Regions from separate parts of the Homo sapiens genome. Here regions 1, 2 and 3 are each reported to be linked to region 4. The links are microRNA targets in miRTarBase. Many come from high-throughput screens and were not tested one by one. Region 4 holds a microRNA gene; each other region holds the end of a gene's coding sequence.
The links. Region 4 holds the annotated microRNA hsa-miR-297 (AUGUAUGUGUGCAUGUGCAUG, at 3,661-3,681, shown strand). A microRNA usually pairs through its seed, bases 2 to 8, with sites in the 3' UTR of a target mRNA and lowers its output. Matches are read on the target gene's strand: a 7mer-m8 pairs with bases 2 to 8, a 7mer-A1 pairs with bases 2 to 7 and ends in A, and an 8mer does both.

Region 1: miRTarBase lists KPNA2 as a target of hsa-miR-297. Seed matches in the 3' UTR shown: 7mer-m8 at 635-641.
Region 2: miRTarBase lists TLR5 as a target of hsa-miR-297. Seed matches in the 3' UTR shown: 7mer-m8 at 3,202-3,208.
Region 3: the mRNA of IGLON5 is a reported target of hsa-miR-297. Seed matches in the 3' UTR shown: 7mer-m8 at 1,853-1,859.

The regions. Positions count from the first base shown.
Region 1 is chr17:68,046,106-68,051,257 of GRCh38, forward strand. KPNA2 (karyopherin subunit alpha 2) reads left to right here. Exons shown (of 11, transcript NM_002266.4): 11 at 399-749. The coding sequence ends at 491. Among named protein-coding and RNA genes, the nearest start is that of KPNA2, 13 kb to the left of the region's middle. RefSeq lists a silencer at 2,135-2,335.
Region 2 is chr1:223,106,284-223,111,435 of GRCh38, forward strand. It overlaps TLR5 (toll like receptor 5), which reads right to left. Exons shown (of 6, transcript NM_003268.6): 6 at 3,121-5,152. The coding sequence ends at 4,172. Among named protein-coding and RNA genes, the nearest start is that of TLR5, 34 kb to the right of the region's middle.
Region 3 is chr19:51,327,960-51,333,111 of GRCh38, forward strand. It overlaps IGLON5 (IgLON family member 5), which reads left to right. Exons shown (of 8, transcript NM_001101372.3): 8 at 712-2,932. The coding sequence ends at 800. It overlaps VSIG10L (V-set and immunoglobulin domain containing 10 like), which reads right to left. Exons shown (of 10, transcript NM_001163922.3): 10 at 3,582-4,681. The coding sequence ends at 4,652. Among named protein-coding and RNA genes, the nearest start is that of VSIG10L-AS1, 9.5 kb to the right of the region's middle. RefSeq lists an enhancer at 299-1,221.
Region 4 is chr4:110,859,153-110,864,304 of GRCh38, reverse strand. MIR297 (microRNA 297) reads left to right here and starts at 3,658; the gene lies at 3,658-3,723.

The DNA of each region.
Region 1 (5,152 bases), not on the chromosome of region 4:
ACTGAGATTTTAAAAGCCACCAGATTAGTTTCAAATGAACAACCTTGAGAATCTTAGAATATCTTGAGGGTAAGTTAACGGGTGTCATTGTAGGAGGTGATAGAGAAGTAGGCCAAACTCATCACCATGCTCTGGGCCTAATACAGTCTTTTCCTATTGAAAAGTGACGGTTGGGGAAGAAAAAAATCTCGGCCTGTTTGTGTTACTGTAGTAGCTAGCATTTATGAATTGGCAAAGTTTCAGAGACCCTCCCTCCTCTATGTCAAATACTATAATATCATACAGGATTAAAGGTGTAATATGCAGATCAAGACCTAGAGATTAAATACAGACTTCAGGTAGGCTGCTGCTTGGAATACTTATATCATTTTTATACTTATTTTTTAATATATTTCCAGGAAGAGGAAGATCAAAACGTTGTACCAGAAACTACCTCTGAAGGCTACACTTTCCAAGTTCAGGATGGGGCTCCTGGGACCTTTAACTTTTAGATCATGTAGCTGAGACATAAATTTGTTGTGTACTACGTTTGGTATTTTGTCTTATTGTTTCTCTACTAAGAACTCTTTCTTAAATGTGGTTTGTTACTGTAGCACTTTTTACACTGAAACTATACTTGAACAGTTCCAACTGTACATACATACTGTATGAAGCTTGTCCTCTGACTAGGTTTCTAATTTCTATGTGGAATTTCCTATCTTGCAGCATCCTGTAAATAAACATTCAAGTCCACCCTTTTCTTGACTTCACCATGCCTATGTGTTGCTTTCTAATTTGGGGCCTTTAATGTTGCTAGTGAAAGGTAACCTGTCCAAACTGATGGGATTAACCAGAGGTAGTCCTGGCTGCAGTTTTTGCAGAAGAATGAATAACATTTTCTGGAAACCCTCAGCCAGTGTCTCCTTAAGTCTCCTTGGCCAGGGAGATGGGCTAAACACCGTAAATTTAATCATAAATCTCTGCTGGAGCTACAAATGGAATTCTTTCCTCCCAAACTTCAAGGCCGAATGGGGTTCCAAGGTAAATCACGGCTGCACATGGGCCTCATCTGGGAAAGTACCCAGTTCTGTTTCGTTGATGAGGGGCATGAGGGTCCACCATGTGTCTTTTTTAAAAATGTAATTCCCAAGGGCTCCTGTACAGTGTAGGTTGATAGCCACTACTCTTTGAGATGGTGTCTCGCTCTGTCACCCAGGCGAAACCCTGTCTCTAGTAAAAATACAAAAAATTAGCTGGGATTACAGGCATGGTGGTGGGAGCCTGTAATCCCAGCTACTCAGGAGGCTGAGGCAGGAGAATCGCTTGAACTCCGGAGGCGGAGGTTGCAGTGAGCTGAGATTGCGCCACTGCACTCCAGCCTTGGTGACAAGAGCGAGACTCTTGTCTAAAAAAAAATCCCCTTTGATAATATATCTTTACCTATAACTTTAATTTTTGTATTTGTTTTTGTTGTAAGCAAGGGAGGAAAGGTAATATTCCTAATACCATTTGGCAATTATAGTAAAAACTGCTGACACTTACTTTGCTTGTTGAAATAATCTGAAAAGAGTAACATTAAAAGATGTCAGTGTTAAACATTTCACAAAGTATTCTTTCATTGCTATATTGCATTTTGGCTAAAAATAATCAGGCTACTTGATTATTTTTAGAACAAAGGAAATCAACATTCTGTTTCCTAATGTTGATTTTTTTTTTCTCTCATCAATCTGGCTGCATCATCACTGAAGAAAAAACGGGGTAATTTTTCGTTACTGTAAATCCTTATTGTTAAGATTTTTTATTTCAGCATTTGGCTGCTTTAATTGCATAACAGCAGTAAGAGCAAAGTCAGTTTTGTTCATAGGAGCCATTGGAAACCTTGTCAGATACAGGACCCAAGTTCAGAAGGCCATTAAGGCCTGGCTGCTCCTTACCCCTCTCCACCCTTGCTGGAGCTTGCCAAAACCCAGTGGACTGATTTTGGAAAGCCCTTGAAACGTGTCATTTCACTAATGGTGCTTTCTTTTGGGATTGGGCTGTTGACCTAATTTGTGATGAACAAAACCCGGCCAAATCATGCAGCCTCCCTCTAACTCCCCATGGGAAAGTGTTAGAGAAAAGTGTTTTAGCAACATCACCCATTTAAGTTTCATAACCCCAGCTAATAAAAATGATAAGAAACACCCAAGCTATCAACTAGGGTTTTTTGAGGGCAGAAGTGCAATTTAATTTTGAGCACTTGCATGTTAAATGACATGTTGGCATAGTTTGAAAGCTAATTCTAGTGTCTGAACGCTCAGTTCCTCCTAAATATTTGGGACAGTTTCATAACACTGTGTAGGAGGTGTATGCATCGAACCCTCTTAAACTGATCAGTTCGTGCGTTCCAGGCTTTTCACAATCGTAAATGTCTTTTCCCATCCTAGTTGTGGGAGGTAGCATGGTGCAGTGAAGTGGACTAGTATTTAAGAGCCAGATCTGTCTGAATTCAAATCCTGCCTCTTTATTGTGTCAGTGAAAGACCTTTTGGTGGGGCAGCTAAGTGCTGGCATAAGAAAAGTATAGATACTAATTCCTACATAATAGAAATATCCTAGATGAGTATTACGGCTATTCCAAACTTTTTGTTTTTGGGAATAGCTGTAATAACTGAAGAAACAAAGTTTCGCTGTGTTGCCCAGGCTGGTCTCAAATTCCTGGCCTCAAGCTATCCTCCTGCCTCAGCTTCCCAAAGTGCTGGGATTTGCAGGAATGAGCCACTGCACCTGGCTGCCTCCAACCTTTTAACACCAAAGATTTCTGTTTGTTCTTACATAGACTCTTGTTTTGATATATTTTACCTTCTAGGCTAAGTTGATTATTACTCTTCTTTTTTTTTCCCCCTTATCAGTCAGATACACATAACATAAGATGACCATACTGGATTGTTCATATACTTAATGATGGGATTCTACCGAAAAGTCAGATGTTTTGTCAGCCTTTAGGTCTTTTAGGGGCTTGGCATAGCTTTCTGAACAGTGGAACTGGCTCAAGGAGGGCCCACTGTGACTAAGTTCCTAGACTGGCTGTTAGCCTTTGCAGTATCTCAGTGAGAGGTCCAGCTGTCTTCCTGTGCCCACTGGTTCCCTTTCTCTTAATTCTATTGGACGTAATAATTGGAGCACCTCCTCCCCTAACTTCTCATTGGCCATGAGAACAGGACTGAACCACCCAAGTCCAACTTGGTGATGGAAGCTTGTCAGTATCAATACCTGATAGGCCCCTAATACTAGTGTTAATGAAGTTTCTTTAATGAGCAAACACTTGACTGTTGAGACAGCCACCACAAAGCCATATTTTCTACTATGAAGAAACTCATGTTTAGAACTTGAACAAGTTTAGGCAGAAATATTGGAAGCTTATCCATAAAAACAAGGGAATATGAGGAAAGATTGGATGAATGAGAAAACTTTGAATCAATTCAAAATTAAAATTAATGGTCAAAGGATGATATCCAGAAGGCATCTCCCGATTGTGGCTGCAAAAATACATATTTTAAAAGCAAAACTGTTGAAATAGAGGAGAAATGTAGAAAAACATGTACGAATGAGATGGTCTTTTTCTTTTTTTTTGAGATGGAGTTTTGCTCTCGTTGCCCAGGCTAGAGTGCAATGGTGTGATCTCAGCTCACTGCAACCTCCGCCTCCCAGGTTCAGGAGATTCTCCCGACTCAGCTTCCCGAGTAGCCAGGATTACAGACATGCACCACCACACCAGGCTAATTTTGTATTTTTAGTAGAGATGGGGTTTCTCCATGTTGGTCAGGGTGGTCTCAAACTCCCGACCTCAGGTGATCCGCCTGCCTGGGCCTCCCAAAGTGCTGGGATTACAGACATGAGACACCACGCCTGGCCAAGATGGTCTCTTTCAACCCTTTGTCTTAGACTAAAGTTGTAGGTGACCAATGACTGTCACCCTACTCTGTTCTTGCCCATCCTTTCAACCAACATCTCAGCCACTCAGCAAAGATTAACTTGGGGAACACAAAACTAATTCATTTTCCTTACTTTCTCTCCCTTTCCCTTCCCTTTCCCATCCCTTTCCCTTCCCTTCCCTTTCTTTCTCCCTTCCTTCCTTCTTCTCTTTCTCTCTCTCACTCTTTCTTTTTCTCTCCCTCTCTCCCCTCCCTCCCTCCTTCCTTCTTCTCTTTCTCTCTTTCTTTTTGCTCTCCGTGTCTCCCCTCCCTCCCTCCTTCCTTCTCTTTCTCTCTTTCTTTTTGCTCTCCCTCTCTCCCCTCCCTCCCTCCTTCCTTCTTCTCTTTCTGTCACTCTTTCTTTTTTCTCTCCCTCTCTCCCCTCCCTCCCTCCTTCCTTCCTTCCTTCCTTCCTCTTTCTTTCTTCCTTTTCTTCCTGGTAACTCTTTAAAATGTATTTTCCTAGTTACAGAAATAATACTAATTTTAGAAAGTTTGAAAAACAGAATACCACAAAGATTAAAATAATAACCTAAAATTCTACCTTTGGATTGTATATTTTGGCATGAATAAGAATTCTTAACCTGTGTAACCTGAGATCCAAGATAGGTTATGGGGCTCCTGAACCTCTGAAACTGTATGCACAGTTTACTGTTAAATACATGTGGGTGCTTTTCAAAGAAAGGGGAATATAGCCTGGGGAAAATTAGGCCCTCAAAGGCAGAGCTACCTTCAAAATATTACAAGTTTCAGGTGTAGTTCCTTTCCATTTCTTTTCTTTTTTTGTTTCTTTTGAGATGAAGTCTCACTCTGTTGCCCAGGCTGGAGTGCAGTGGCAAAATCTCGGCTCACTACAACCTCCATCTCCCAGGTTCAAGCAATTCTCCCACCTCAGCCTCCCGAATAGCTGGGATTACAGGCGTGCGCCACCATGACCAGCTAATTTTTGTATTTTTAGTAGGAGACGGAGTTTCACCATGTTGGGCAGGCTGGTCTTGAACTCCTGACCTCAGGTGATCCACCTACCTCAGCCTCCCAAAGTGCTACAGATGTGAGCCAATGCGCCCGGCCTATTTCCTACACTTTTGTAAATGTGCTTTTTTTTTTTTTTTTTTTTTTTTTTTTTGGAGATGGAGTCTCGCTCTGTTGCCCAGGCTGGAGTGCAGTGGCGTGATCTCGGCTCACTGCAACCTCCGCCTCCCGGGTTCAAGCGATTCTCCT
Region 2 (5,152 bases), not on the chromosome of region 4:
GTAGTCAGCTTTCTCGATTTCCTTCTTCTCTTGCCTCTTGGCCCTATTTACTACCTTGCAACTTTCCCGTGTCTTTAAATAGATTCTAAAAAAATAGTTTCTCCAGCTTTTCTAGATGCTCCCAATGGAAGAACTGGGCAGAACTTCCTCAGGCAATCATCATTAATTTGTATGGTTCTTTCTTCTGGCATTTTCATACTTCTAAATATATATATTTGGAACACTATTTCTTGATTTAATATTGTAGACTTTTTTGTAATCAATTTTACATTGTGGTACATGAGCATTTAACTATCTTAAACTTTTACTCCACAGTCTCTTGTCCTCTTAACGTGGTTCTTTCATGATTTAAAACTTCAAACCGCATTTGCTTTACATAATATCAAGACTCTCTAAAACATTCTTCACTGCAAGTGCACGTGGTTGGCAAGGGATTTTCAGAGTCAGTTGTATTTGGCATGAGTGGGATTCTCTTTGAAGTTTTCAGCAGCTCTAGTCAATATTCTAGATCTTTCCAGAATAGTTGCAGTTTCAACTACAGAAAGCTCTAGCCATTCTGAGATTGAACTGTGGTAGTTTCTCACCATTTTGGAGTGACCCCAGAGGTCTGTGCTATGTGGAATTTATCTATTTCCTGAGGCCTGGCTTTGAATCACTGCGCCATGGAAGACAGGGCAGTCACTTAGCAACCAGTGTCTCAGCAGACTCCCCAGGGCCCACTTCCCAATGTGGCTCCGTTGGGCCTTCCTTTTGCCATGTACACAGCAAGTCTTGTGACGTGATAAAGACTTGGGAAAATGGCCTCAAAAAGAATTCCAACTGCTGGGCCTGACCATGGGAAAGAAGACAAAAGAATTTTAGTAAGTTTTGGATCTTTGCCAGAAAAGGGAAGTTTTGAAATAGAGTGGTATGTTGAAACTAACAGTGGCTAGGATGTAGACATGAACAGGTCCCCCATACACTCTATACAGAGACCACAAAAGATGCCTTTTAAATGTGTTTCATTAGGAAAATTACCTGTAATTCGTGTTTTTAAATAAGAAGATTAGAAAAGGCTGTGGGATAGACTCCTTTCCTATGTTGAGAGTTATCTGTGTTTCAGCTTGTTCTTCCTGTAAAGACACCTGCACTTGTCATTTTACATGTCCCAGGTTTGGTTTGGAAAACAGAGTCATAGCGATGGTCACCCAAACCAAGGGAGGTCCCTGGTGTAGCACTACCTCCAACCCCTAGCCGGACTAGGAAACCCCTTTCCCTAGGAGTCCTGTTCATACAAGGTGTTCTGACCAGGAGATTTCTTCAGTGTCCTGGGTGCCCCTCCCACCCCCTAGAGCTGGGGGAAAACCATGGCTGAGCAGCAGGTGGGACAGGAGGGCATGAAACCGAGCAGAGTGGTCTTTCCACAGTCTTCCTGATTTGCGGTTATACCTGTTACTGACACAGTATACTTTTGTTTTGTCTCCTTCCTTCTTTTTTTTTTTTTTTGAGTTAGGATCTCGCTCTGTCACCCAGGAGTGCAGTAGTGCCATCTTGGCTCACTGCAATCTCCGCCTCTTGGGTTCGAGGAATTCTCCTGCCTCAGCCTCCCTAGTAGCTGGGATTACAGGTGTGCACCACCACACCCAGCTAATTTTTGTATTTTTAGTAGAAACGGGGTTTCACCATGTTGGGCAGGCTGGTCTCAAACTCCTGACCTCAAGTGATTGGCCCACCTTAGCCTCCCAAAGTGCTGGGATTACAGGCATGAGCCACCAGTGCCTGGCCCTGTTTTACTGTATTTCTTAGCACAGGGTTCCAGGAGACCTTATTCACTGCAAATTCATGTGGGTTCTGTTTTCCTCCCCACCCCCTCAGCTCTCCATTCTAGCCCCGTTCCTAGCTGCTAATCCAGGCTGCCACTGTCCCACTACCCAGGAGGCCTGTGCCATGCCTGGCCATTTGAAATAGTGTTCAGGGGTGTCTGACAGCCTGTGGTCTCCTGCCCTTTTCAGCTTACCACTCAGCACCTCCATGGATATCTTGCTCTCTCAGGCCCTCATCCTCCCTGCCCCTCCAGTGGAAAGTCTAATAACAGCAGGTGTTGCCATGAGGGAGGCTGGGCTTCCCAGTATACTTCACTCATCCACAAGACATTTACTAAGCACATACTGTGGGCCAGGCACAAACTGGGCCTGCGATACACAGATGAACAAGACAAGATCCTGACTGCAGTGTCTCACAAACTAAGCCGTCCATACACATACATAAACACACTGGCGCAACACAATGTCATGTATCAGTGACAGAAAATCTGTCACTGGGGTCATGAGGGATGGGCAGTCTTGCTAAACAAGGAAATTCATCAGGCAGACGAGTGGTAGGATGGGGAGAAGAAATTCCATGGGGAGGAAGAAGCATGGGCAGATGTGTAAGTGGGAAACCCTTGAATGGTCCCCAAACCATAAGTGATCTGCTACAGCCAGTGAGGGCAGGACACAGAAGACAAGGTCTTTCCTCAGGGAACTTATCTTCCAGAGAGGCGGGCAGCCGGGCAGGCTCAGAAAAAAGGATAGAGGAAGTAGTAGTAAGTGCTACTTTTAAAAGACCAGATAAAGTGTCAAGAGTTTTCACAAAAGGGAGAGAGGACTTTGGGTTAGGGATCCCAGGGAGCTTCATGGGCTGGATTTTGAAGAAAACGAAGAAAACGTAGGATGGATGTGCAGAGATGGGAGAAGAATCCAGAGGAAAGAGGTACAGTGGGGACTGCATGGTGTGCGTGAAAATAATGCCATCGCTGGGTGCAGGGAAAGCTCGGTCTCATTGATTAGAAGTGGCCAAAAGAAGTTGGGATGAGAATAGCGTGTATGTGTGTGTGTGTGTGTGTGTGCGCGCGTGTGTGTGTTGGAGGAGTCAGGATTGAGGGGCCCAGTGAGGGGAAGAAGGTGACAGTTTGGAGAGCTGAGTCCCAGACCCATGTGTACCCCTCAAACTGCAGGAGCTGACCTGGAGTTACGCTGGACTTGGAGGAGGCAGTGTGTGAAGCTATGGGGTAATTTTGGCACAGTTTCCTTGTTTTAAGTATTCTTAATCCTTTTGCAAAAACACATTTCTATATTAATAAACATGAAAAAAAGAACAGAATGGAAAATACACATAGATTTCATTTAAGATAAAAAAATACAACTTCAGTGAAATTGCAACTGCCCCCCAGGAGGCCTTCAGTGTATGTGTTCTCTTGTGGTCATTAGGGCAACGAAGGAAAAGATCTGAGAAGCCCTGACATCCTTGGCCAATTTAATTTTCACAGGAATTCTATGACATAGATGCTGTTACGTGAGAAAATGTAGGTCCAGCAAGGGCATACCAAGGCCAAGGTTACATGGCTAATACACAGCTGACTCAGAACTCAACCCAGGATCTGTGTGCAAAGTCCATGTTCTTCATGCAACAGCCTGAGCAGCTGATCAATGAGGTGTGCTAGGAAACAAAGCTGAAAAGGTAGGTTGGTGATAAATCATGGAAGGTCTTGAAGGCCAGGCTTAAATAAAGGCAGCATGTGAGAGAAAGTTCTTGGCTCACTAGGGCGAGACCTGGAGAAGCCGAAGGTAAGAACATGAAGTGCAGTACAGTCACAAGACAGGTAGTGACTCATTCATCCCAGCTTCTTTGGGGCCACCTCTTATCTATGAGACAAAGTGTGACTTGCACTCAACAGTGGCATTGTTTCTGTGGCAAAAGAAGGAAATGTGCCTCTGCTTCTGTTTGTTTTCTACTTAATGTTGTTTTGCAGAACACAGAGAACGCAGAATCATGGACCATCCCATTTTTTAGCTGAATGCTAGAGAAAGCACGTCAGCCATCTGCAACTTCTCCCAAGGTGCCCTTCCCATGATTAGGATACATTCCATAATCAACACAGCAGGACAGAACGGTATTATTGGATCTGAAAGAAAATCAATGGAGACTGGAAACCTCTAAGGGCAGTTGCAATTTTCTAGATCTATTATTTTCCATTTGGAGGTTAGTGAGACAGAACATGGTGTTGATACGAAAATTGAGAGATTTATGTTGTTTTCATAGTAGCAAAAAGAAAAAAAAAACCTCCAGAGAGGACCCCAAAATGATAACTTGGTGCAAATACAAAGTGAAGAGTTATTTGTGGCTTGAGATAAGTTGGAAATTGCTCCTTTGATTAGGAGATGGTTGCTACAGTTTGCAACGGAATGTTATTGTCTTTCTTCTTTTCTTTTTCTTTCTTTAGTATCTGTTGAGAGAGTTTATGAAGAAACCAGCCAACATCCTGGAGATCCTCAGGCCACCTCAAATACTGCTGTTTCTGTACAAAGCCTCTGATGGATTGATGTTTCATCAACTGGTACTGGGACAAGGACCCAACCACCACCATGATGAGAGCACTGTTAAGGTCAGATAAGCACCTGCCCTGGGCATAACTGAAGGCTTCAAGGCACCAGCCATCTCTAAGGAAGTGTCTGCTCACAAGACAAACGATCTTTCTACTGTTCCAGATGGCATCCTGGATATTGGCAATGCGGTTTTCTCCTGGGACAAAGTCTCTTTCTTCAAAGCACAGGTTGAATCTGTTTTGGTCACTGTATTGAGTGTCCAGGTGTTTGAGCAAAGCATTCTGCACCCATGTGAAGTCTTTGCTGCTGAAGCACAAATAGGCATCATATTTGTACATATCAGGTTCTGTGCCCTGGGGATGGTCCTTGAACACCAGTCTCTGGGCTGTCTTATAACAGATAAAACAGAAGCCCCGGAACTTTGTGACTGTGAGGATGGTCATGAGGAACAGAGTCAGAGTGACAGTGCATACAATGAAAAGGGAGAACTTTAGGGACTTTAAGACTTCCTCTTCATCACAACCTTCCGTGGAAAGAGAGAAGAGGGAAACCCCAGAGAACGAGTCAGGGTACACACAATATATGTCTGCAGGAGGCCCAGCTATAGTGACATTGGTGTGATTAAGCCAATTGATAAAAGTGCTAAGTTCACATTCACAAATGAACTTGTTATGAGTTATATCCAAGACACTAAGTGATACAAATACATCAGGATTAGGAGCTAGGAGCTGGTTCCTGGATATGTCCAGGATCTCTAAATTAGCAGGTAAATCATTGTGAGAAAGAACTGTCAGCCTGTTGGAGTTGAG
Region 3 (5,152 bases), not on the chromosome of region 4:
GGACCGCCCTTCAGGCTGGCCCTGAACTTAGGAGATGGACGCTGAGACTGAAAAGCAATGCGAGTAAGAAACCGATCCACGCAATCAATATTCATTGAGTGCCAGCTAAGGGTTTGTCGTGGGGGACGCAGCTGTGCACAAAAGAAACAAGGTTTGGGGATTCGCAGAGCTTATAGTCTAGTAGGAGTAGAAAAGCAATAAACAAGTGGTCATGTAGGTAAATAAGCAAACACATACATAAACAAAAAATAATTTTGGAGGCCGGGCGTGGTGGCTCACGCCTGTAAATCCCAGCACTTTGGGAGGCCGAGGCGGGCTGATCACCTGAAGTCAGGAATTTGACACCAGCCTGTCCAACATGGTGAAACTATGTCTCTACCAAAAAAAAAAAAAAATACAAAAATTAGCCAGGCGTAGTGATGGGCACCTGTGGTCCTAGCTATTCAGGATGCTGAGGCAAGAGGATTGCTTGAACCTGGGAGGCAGAGGTTACAGTGAGCCGAGATTGCGCCTGGGTGACAGAGCGAGACTCCGTCTCAAAAAAAGAAAAAAAAAAAAAAAAAGAAACAGAGTCAGAAAAGCAGGCACACCCAATGAGAGATCCAGAAAGGACGCTAAAGAGTGGGCTCAGAAGAGATGGGGCCCCTGGAGAGACACACATGGGGTTCCCCACTCTCAGGCCTCCCTCCATGACCCCTTCTCTTCCCCCAGGCCCAGGATCCCTGGAGAACTCAGCCCCGAGGCCCCCAGGGCTCCTGGCCCTCCTCTCCGCCCTGGGCTGGCTGTGGTGGAGAATGTAGGCGCAACCCAGTGGAGCTCACCTCCCCCTGCAGGGGGCCTCAGGCCAAGAGTGAGAGAAACGGGGGAGCAAGAGCCGTGGGTCTCGTGGGGGCAGAAGAGCTCTCGGCCACCAAGGAAGAAGAGAGAGGAGAAGAGGAGGAGGCAGAGGAAGAAAGATCTTCAGAGAACCCATCACTGTGAGGGATAACGCAAAATTATGCATCTTTCTACAGCCATTCTCGCCACCCGTTCACGTTTCCGATTGTGACCCACTCCCGCCACCCCATACCCCTCTCTCTTAGCTCAGGCTGTCAACTGGCTTGTGTGGGTGTGGGTGTGTGAGTGTGAGCCTGCATGCATGTGTAGGTGTCTGTGTCTCTGTTTGTGTGTGTGTGGGGGGGTGGGCTGGGGGAAGGGACTCAGCCGTCCTCCCGCCCCCAAAACCCCCATGTCCACTGTCCCCAACCCTATTGCCTCTCACCTCTGGCTGGAGGTAGGTATGAGGCTCTGCAGTGGAAGCTGTGAAGAGAGGCTTACCAGGCTCCCTGCTTCCCCAATATATGCACGCACACTACCCCTCCCCCTGTCGAAAGGGCAACTCCTGGCAGGTTGGGAGTGGGGAGGGGCATCGCACTCACCTGTCAAGCTGTCATTCAGCCTTTGTGAGTAAGTGGGGGACCTCCATCTAGGCTCTGGGCTTCCCTGCTGTCAACCACCAGCTTCCTGTAGCCAGAGGCCCCATCGCTGGCTCAGTGGCCTGAGACCTTCCCACTTTTCCTGTCCCTCCACACCCTGGATTTTCTGGCCCCCTCCTGGGCCAATCGGTGCTTCCATCCAACTGTCAGACTGGTGGCAGGAGTCACCTGTCTGTTTCAGTGCTTTGCCCTACCCTTGCCACCACTCCCCTTGGCCTTGATTTCCCCACCTGCGGCACCAGCCAGCTGCCCTTGGGGCCTTTGCAGCTGGCCCACAGGTGTGAGCTTGCTGGTCTATCACTTCCTGGCCTCTCCACCAACTGTACCTCCCAAAGGCTACCTGACCGCCCTCACAGACACTCAGACGCACCACACACACATACACACACACAGACACACACACACACACACACACACACACCAGCGACTGTGACCAGCAATAGCCCCCTGGCTCCAGCTGTCCGGTAGCTGGTGACTAGCTGTATTTCCCCCTGGGTAGGCATCTGGTGTCAGGAAGGGACGCTGAGAGGCCGCAGCCTCAGCTCTGACTGTAGGAACACTCCACCCTGGTACACCACACCACACAAAGTGGGGGACAGAGAGGCATCACACAGACATCCTGAGCCCAGACAAAGATGCCATGTCACCAACTCCGACTCCCAGGAGACCCTCTATATAAACACCCACCCCAAACCACACCACCCAGAGTCTGGTGGAGAAAAGGAGAGGGCAAGGCGCAGTGACTGTACCTCAGACGGGGGCATGGGCCCCATCCCACATTGTCTTCCATTCCCAGGGTCCAGGGGATGGGGTGGGACAGGGGAGGGATGCTAGGGAGGGGGTGGGGGGCCCTGGGGGCCATGTGTTCCAATTCATGGGGAGTGTTGAGACCACCACACCAATAAACGCCTTTTTCCAAAGTCTGCCTGCAGGTGTCAATGTCATTAAGGATTAGAGTTAATGAAGGGCAAAGGGTAGCAGTCAATTGGTGGTGCCTCTCCAGCATCATTCCTACCGCCTACTTTCTCACTGGTAGACTTGGAATGGACTCATTACAGAGATGCCCTGTGATTGGCCGAAGACACCCAGCATAGCCCATTTCCCACCGTGATTGGCTCAGAGATGGGCACATGACCCAGTAAGGCTAATGAGAAAGTGAATGGATTCCCAAGAAGAGATGCTTTTCTGCTGGATATTGTGGCTCCGTGATGTGAAGTCAACATCTGTAGGGTTGCTTTTCTCCATCACATGGAGAGATCTTGGCTCTGTGGGGATAGCAATGGTGGGGAGGACAGCATATGGAGCCTGAGAAGGATAGGAACACTGTGAAGGGCAGAGTGGAAACCTTAGAGAAACTGAGTCCATGATTATATATCATTTGAGCAGCTGGATCAAAACTTAACTGATGCCCATTTTCACTTATATAAGCAATAAAGTCCCCTGTATATTTAAACCAATTTGCATTGGATTTTCTATCTCTAGTAATAAAAAAGAGAATGAAAACCATAATAGATACAGAAGAGACATAGAAGGCCCAGAACCCCAACCCTCACCTTTCCAAAAGGATCCAGGGGTTCTATTTTCCAATGGCCTTTTCTACCCCCAATCATTAACCAGAAATTCTCTCACATGCTTTCCTTCCCTGAGACAGATGCTGGTTGCCCACATTTGAGTTGTTTGGTTCCCCTTTCTTCTTCGCTGGCAGATCCACGTGTTATGATACAGGCTAGATATCTGGTTTCCTAGCCTCCTTTGCAGCTATGTGGCCAGTTTGGGCCAAAGAGACATAAATGGAAATTTGCTTGTAGGTTTCCAGGAAAGCTTCCCTCCCACCCCATGAGAGGGAAGAAGGCAGTGATAGAGGGAGGTAGAGGGTGGGGAAGATGTATAGGGAGGAAGTTCTGCCCCCTTCCTTTTATCTTTGGATACAGTTGTGTGAAGATGTGATGACTGGAGCTGCAGCAACCATCTTGCTACGTGAAGCAACATGCTTAGAGTCAATGTGCCAACCCACTGAGGGTGGCAGAGCAGATGGATGCAAAGGGCCCATGTCTTTAATGGCGTTACTGAGCTGCTGAGCCAGCCTGAAACCAGCCGCCTCCATAGTTCTTGCCACCATTTTATTTTGTTACTTGCAGTCAAAAGAATCCTCACCAATGCACTCTCTAAATTCTCAATTAGAAACCCAGCTGAAAAAGCAAGACTTACGCTGAAGACAGCAGCAGCAAGCCCAACTCTTCACTGGCACCAAAACATTTGATCAGTCAACAAATATTTATTGATTGCCTGCTGTGTGTGAGGCTCTGGGTTAAGTGCTGAGTTAATGATGTGGTCTCTGCTTTTGTAAAGCCCTTAGTTTAGAGAGAGAGTCTCAGGCCACACAAGAAATTACATATTTATGTATCAGGAACGGCAAATTCAAGGATTCTGGGACTTAACCCAAGACTAAGGGAGGGGTAAGGGAACGGTCGTCTAAGATGGTAACTGCTACTCTTAGACTTGAGAAATGAATGACATATGGGAAAAAGAAGTGTTATAAGCACAGCAAACTCTAGGGGCAAAATAAATTGTGGCTGAGAGACAGACTGTGATACTGGAGTCCGGGGGCAGAGAAAGAATTGGGAGGGGAGGTCAGGGAGGCCAACAGAGGCCAGACCACAAGGTTTTGAAGGTCACGACGATGAGTTTGGATAATATCTGAAGGGAAATGCACAGGCCGTAGAAGCGTTTAAAGAGAAGAGTGACATGATCTGATCTGTTTTAAGATGAAGATGCTGGGAGCTGGATGGGGTGTGGCCTACAGGTGGCAAAGTGAATGTAAGGGGACCTTTTCAGAGAACATGGCCAAGCTCCCTCTCTAGCTCAGAGCAACACAGCAAGCCCTGCCTGTCTGCTGCAGAGGCTTGGAGGTTGTGCAAACCACACAGTTAGATCAGCAAGAGTTTCCCAGCCAAGAAGTCACATCTCCTTACTTGCACAAATACAGGAAGACTCTTCTTCTGCAGCAAGAGAGGGAGACAGAAAGTCCCACTTTCAGGGTCCAACCCTCAGTCATAGCAGGCCCTGGCTGCTGCTGGAGTGAAATAGGAAGTTCTGGCCCAAAACGCCCTGTGCAGGGCAGACCACTGGCTCTGATCACACCTGTGTGGCTGCGCGAACAGTCTTTGAGCCTCCGCCTACAGAGACAACTGAACTGGGGTCTGTGCCTGGAAGAGAGAGGTGGGGTGAGGGGAGAACTCAGTAGGTACTCTGGATGTGACATAACTCACCCGCCTAACTTTTTCTAGCTCTTGCTTGAACTTTTTAGAGATTATCTGGGAACCCTCCATTTGGAGAGGGGAAAAAAAATGCCTGGCTATCCTTGGTGGAGCGAAGCCAGCCAACAACCCAACCCAGTTGTTATTTTTTATTTATTTATTTATTTATTTATTTTGAGACAGGGTCTCACTCTGTCATCCAGGCTAGAGTACAGTGGCACCGTTAGAGCTCACTGCAGCCTTGACCTCCCAGGCCCAAGCAATCCTCCCACCTCAGCCTCCCTAGTAGCTGGGACTACAGGTACGTGCCACCATGCCCGACTAATTTTAAAATTTTTTGTAGAGATGGGGTATCCCTATGTTGCCCAAGCTGGTATCGAACTCCTGAGCTCAAGTGATTCTCTCTCCTCAACCACCCGA
Region 4 (5,152 bases):
AATTATGAGTAGTTTTTAAATTACTAGTTGCATTTCTACAACAAATCATAACTTTTTGAACATCTAATTATCTATTTTCAATAAGTTTCTGTAGACTCAAAACTTTTGTTTCAGATAAACTTAAGATTTAACCATCTAAGAACAGGAATCCTGATTAATCTGTATTTTCAAGGGAATATATTAATACATCATATTAGTACTTTATTGCTTTTAAAGCTGTAAAATCATAAAGATTTTACAAATAAAAATGAAGACATACAGGTTTATGTAAGTTTGTATATACATATATCCTACTTTAAAACATTATAACATGTTGATTTCAAAATAACAATTCTAAAACTGCCTAACTCAATGATTTTTTTTAACCTTGAGATTTGCTTGTAAATCTCAGATAAATCTCAGGGTAAATTTCAGATACTATTTGAAAGTCAAAAATAATAATAGAGATTCTTAAATAGACTAATGTTAATAAGTATATTACAAGTATACCTTTAGAAATAAAGATATAAATAACACTAAGAGAAAACGTGAAACTAGAAAAATTTATATTTTGGGGTTTTGTGCATTTAATCTGTCAAAACTATCATGTGTAGCAACAGTTCATGTTTCTTCTACATTTTTATTTATTCCTTATGTTTATTACTGACTGCTTGTACTATTATGATCAGATTTGTATCAAGTTTACCAGAAATATGAAAAGGTATGTTATTATGCATATAATTAATCCTTGAGTTTATTTAATGTTGCTTTTAATTTACATCTCATAAATTTTCTCATCTCATAAAGTTCCAAGTTATGTTAATATTTTATGTACAATTTAGCTTTATTGTGACAGGAAATGTTGATAAATTACCAGTTATGAGAAAAAAAAAATCTATGAGGAAAAGTATAAAACTAAAATACCAGATCAGAAAAGAGTGATATTTAAAGGTTATAGTTTCCAAATTTAGCAAATAAAAATATAGGATCCCCAGTTAAATCTGAAGTTCAGATAAAAATGAATAAATTTTAGCATACATGTATCCCATGCAACATTTGGGATGTACTTACAACAAAAAAATTAGCTATTGCTTATCCAAAAGTTAAATATAACTCAGTGTCTTGTATTTTATCTGGCAAGCCTAATAAAAGTGAATTTTTACTTATTAATATATCATTTATCACAGTTTCATCTGTTACTTATCAAAGGATTTCTATGCAACAAAGTCAGTTTTACACATTTAATAGCTATGACTTCTGCTAGTCTCAGGGAATACCGTCTCTTCCAAATTTACTCAACATGGTGTTTTTCCTTTATTTAGGGATGAACCTAAATAAAGAAGGGACCAGTTGTCAGCTTCTACACTTCCAGCACTGAAGCAAGGAGCAAAGGTAGGATTTATTAGCTAACATGTATTAAGGGCTTCCATATGAGCCAAGCAGTATGCTGAGTTCTGTACATTCATTATCTTCTTTAACCCTCACAACAGCCTTCTGAGGTGAGTGCTATTATTATCACCATTTTACAGATGAGGAAACTGAGGTAGGAAATGTCAAATTACTTGATCAAGGTTTGAATGGGAGTCAGTGGGAAGGCTGACCTGAAACTCAAAGCTTTCTGACTTTGTCAGTCTGCTTTTCCTCCCAGTTAGGACAGAAGCAGTTGTATTTGCCCCATCCTTCTTGAGAGAACCCTTTACCCCGCCTGCACCACTCTCATTCTCTTAAAAATATGAAATATTAAATATAAGGATTGCCACATCCCATGCAACCCCAGTCAGGTGCCTCACAACTCTACAACCTGAGGCCATATGAAGGCAACCCAGGTATTTCTGGGCACAGAGAGAAGTGAACCAAAGGACTGCCCATTTGGTTTACTGTCCATAAAATTACTGAGTAAAATGTTAAACATTTTCTTCTCTTCAAAATAATGATCAACTCGATCTTTCAGAAAAAATTTTCAAAGCTTTGAAAAGGTTTTTTTTGAACTCTTCACTTATTTTTATTTATAATGGCATATAATAACTGTACATATTTATTGGGTATAATGTTTCAATACATGTATCTATAGTATAATGGTCAAATTGGAGTAATTATAGCTATCACTTTAACTACTTAGCATTTCTTTGTGGTGGCAACATTCAAAATCTTCTCTTCTAGCTGTCTTGAAATATACAATACATTGGCATTTGCTGTAGTCACTCTACTGTGAAACAGAACACCAAAACTGAAAAGTTATATTTTAAAATAATCCTTTTCTACACTTCAAGTCTACATTCTTTAAAAATAATAACAGATCTGAATTCTACTCATTCAACCATTAATTAAGAATAACTATAACTTTATAACTTTTTAAAATAAGATTTGTACAGAAGTTTTGTTTCCTTGTTTGTTTGCTTGGAAAGGTTTTTGGTTGATACTTACGTAAGTGACAGGCTCTGCTTACATGCATGACCAACATTATCTTAGTCTAATCCCACAACAACCTCATCTGGTAGGTATATTTTCCAGATAAGGAAACTAAGGAACAGAGATGTTACATAACTTGCCCAGTCACACAGCTAGTAAGCTGAGAAACCAAGATTCAGGCCAGGCAGTTTGTTTCCAGTTTTCCCTTTTTTTTTTTTTTTTTGAAACAGAGTCTTGCTCTGTCGCCCAGCCTGGAGTGCAATGGTGCGATAGGGGCTCACTGCAACCTCTGCCTCCCGGGTTTAAGTGATTCTCCTGCCTCAGCCTCCAGAGTAGCTGGGATTACAGGCACCCACCACCATGCCCAGCTAATTTTTGTATTTTTAGTGGAGACGGGGGTTCACCATGTTGATCAGGCTGCTCTTGAACTCCTGACCTCAAGCAGTCCACCCACCTCAGACTCCCAAAGTGCTGGGATTACAGGCATGAGCCACTGCGCCCAGCCCAGTTTTCCATTCTTAATCAGTAGGCTCTTGTTTGAGAATATTTTATTCTTAATGATGGTATTACTCATTTTTGTACTTTATACAATGGAGTACTTCGTGTTTGGAATGGCTTCCTTGTCCATATCTTTGTAAGGTTGAGGCCAATTTTTCTGAAGGTCTAAAGATCAGGCCCAAAAGAGAGACCACATAATCACTTTGCGTTCCTTCCTCAGTAATCTCCACAACTCATTTTGTGTCAGAAATTCACCACTGCACAATAACAGGCCAACAGTGGCCAGAGTTGGCTCCCATGCTGTAAGGTTGGAGGAAGGACACACCAGGCTTCCTAAGTACTTCACACAAGGCTGCCAAAGGATTAGCTGGATGTTCCTGTGCCAGGTTCACTTAACAGGAACATGGCAAGTTGTGGAGACTAATTGGTTCTCACAGGTATTTGGGGTAATGTAAAAATACAACTGCAGGAAAGGCAATTTCCCCCTAGAATGTGACTTGCTCCTGTAAATACAATATATTTTACAGGTTTTAATGCATGTGAAATATTTATCATTGGCATGAAAATTTAAAATATATACCATTTTCCCTTTCATGCCAAAGGGCTTCTATACCCATCACAATTAAAATTAAATATGGAGTAATAGCATAGCTTTTTACTCTGATTCCCTTTTCCCCATTTTGTAAATTCACAGCTTTAACCCATGGCCACCTGCCTGAACGATGGCTTATTTCCAACTCAAGATCTCTTTCTACATACTTTATGAACATATGTATGTATGTGTGCATGTGCATGTATGTGTATATACATATATATGTATTATGTACTCATATATCAAGGAGATTTCATTTCTATTTTTAATCTATGGTATAACTTCTGCATTGATCATATAGTCATGAACCACACGAAAAAGTTCCAGTCAACGACAGACCACAAATGTGACAGTTGTCCCATAAGAAGAAAATGGAGCTGAAAAATTCCTATCACCTAATGGCGTCGTAGCCATCATAATGTAATAGCAAATGCATTACTCATGCGTTTTTGGTGATGTTGGTGTAAATAAACCTACAGTGCTGCCAGTCATATAATATTACAGCACATACAATTATCCACAATACATAACACTTGATAATGACGAATATGTTACTGGCTTATATATTTACTATAGTAAACTTTTATTGCTATTTTAGGGTATACTGCCTCAACTTATAAAAAAAAAGTTAACTATAAAACAGCCTCAGGCAGGTCCTTCAGGAGGTATCCAGAAGAAGGCATTGTTATAGCAGATTACAGCTCCATTTGTGTTACTATTTCCAGTTTTCCACTCTTAATAGAGCTTCTACTGGGACAAGAGGTGGAGATGGAAGGCAGTGATACTGATGATCCTGACCCTGTGTAGGCCTAGGCTATGTGTATGTTTCTGTCTTAGTTTTTAACAAGAAAGTTGAAAAAGTAAAATATATATATATATATATGATCTTTGAAATAGAAAAAAGCTTATAGAATAAGAATATAAAGAAAGAAAACATTTTTGTACAGCGATACAATGTGTTTATATTTTAAACTAAATGTTATTACAGAAAGAGTCAAAAAGTAAAAAAATACAAGTTTATAAAGTAAAAAAGCCATGGTAAGCTAAAGTTAATTTATTATTTAAGAAAGAAGATTTTTTTTTAATTTAGTGTAGCCTAGTTCACTGTGTTTATAAAATCCACAGTAGTGGACAGTAATGTCCTAGGCCTTCACCTTCACTCACCACTCACTCACTGATTCACCCAGAGCAACTTCCAGTCCTACAAGCTCCATGCATGGTAAGTGCCCTATACAGGTTTACCATTTTTTGTCTTTTATACCATATTTTACCTTTTATATGTTTAGAAATGTTTAGATACACAAATGCTTGCCATTGTGTAACAGTTGCCTAAAGCATTTAGTACAGTAACGTGCTGACTGAATACTTATTCAGAATTCTGCTATTTCTGTTGGAGTGCTGCATCATAGTCCTCAGAGGCACACAGATCTCACTACCTAGGGTCTACAGGCATCAAGTCATAGGTCTGAGAGAGAGATTGAAGGATTAAAAAGAAGAGGGGCAAAGAGAAATTAGAGTCTAAAAGGGGAAAAGGGATCACATTTGCCAGCCCCACTCTATCTCCAAATGTCTTTTCTGATCAATCTCATAATCAATTGATAATAAAAGTAGCCAAAAGATTATACTAACTATATATCTAACCCTTAAATAAAAATCACTCTCTGCCAGGAACTA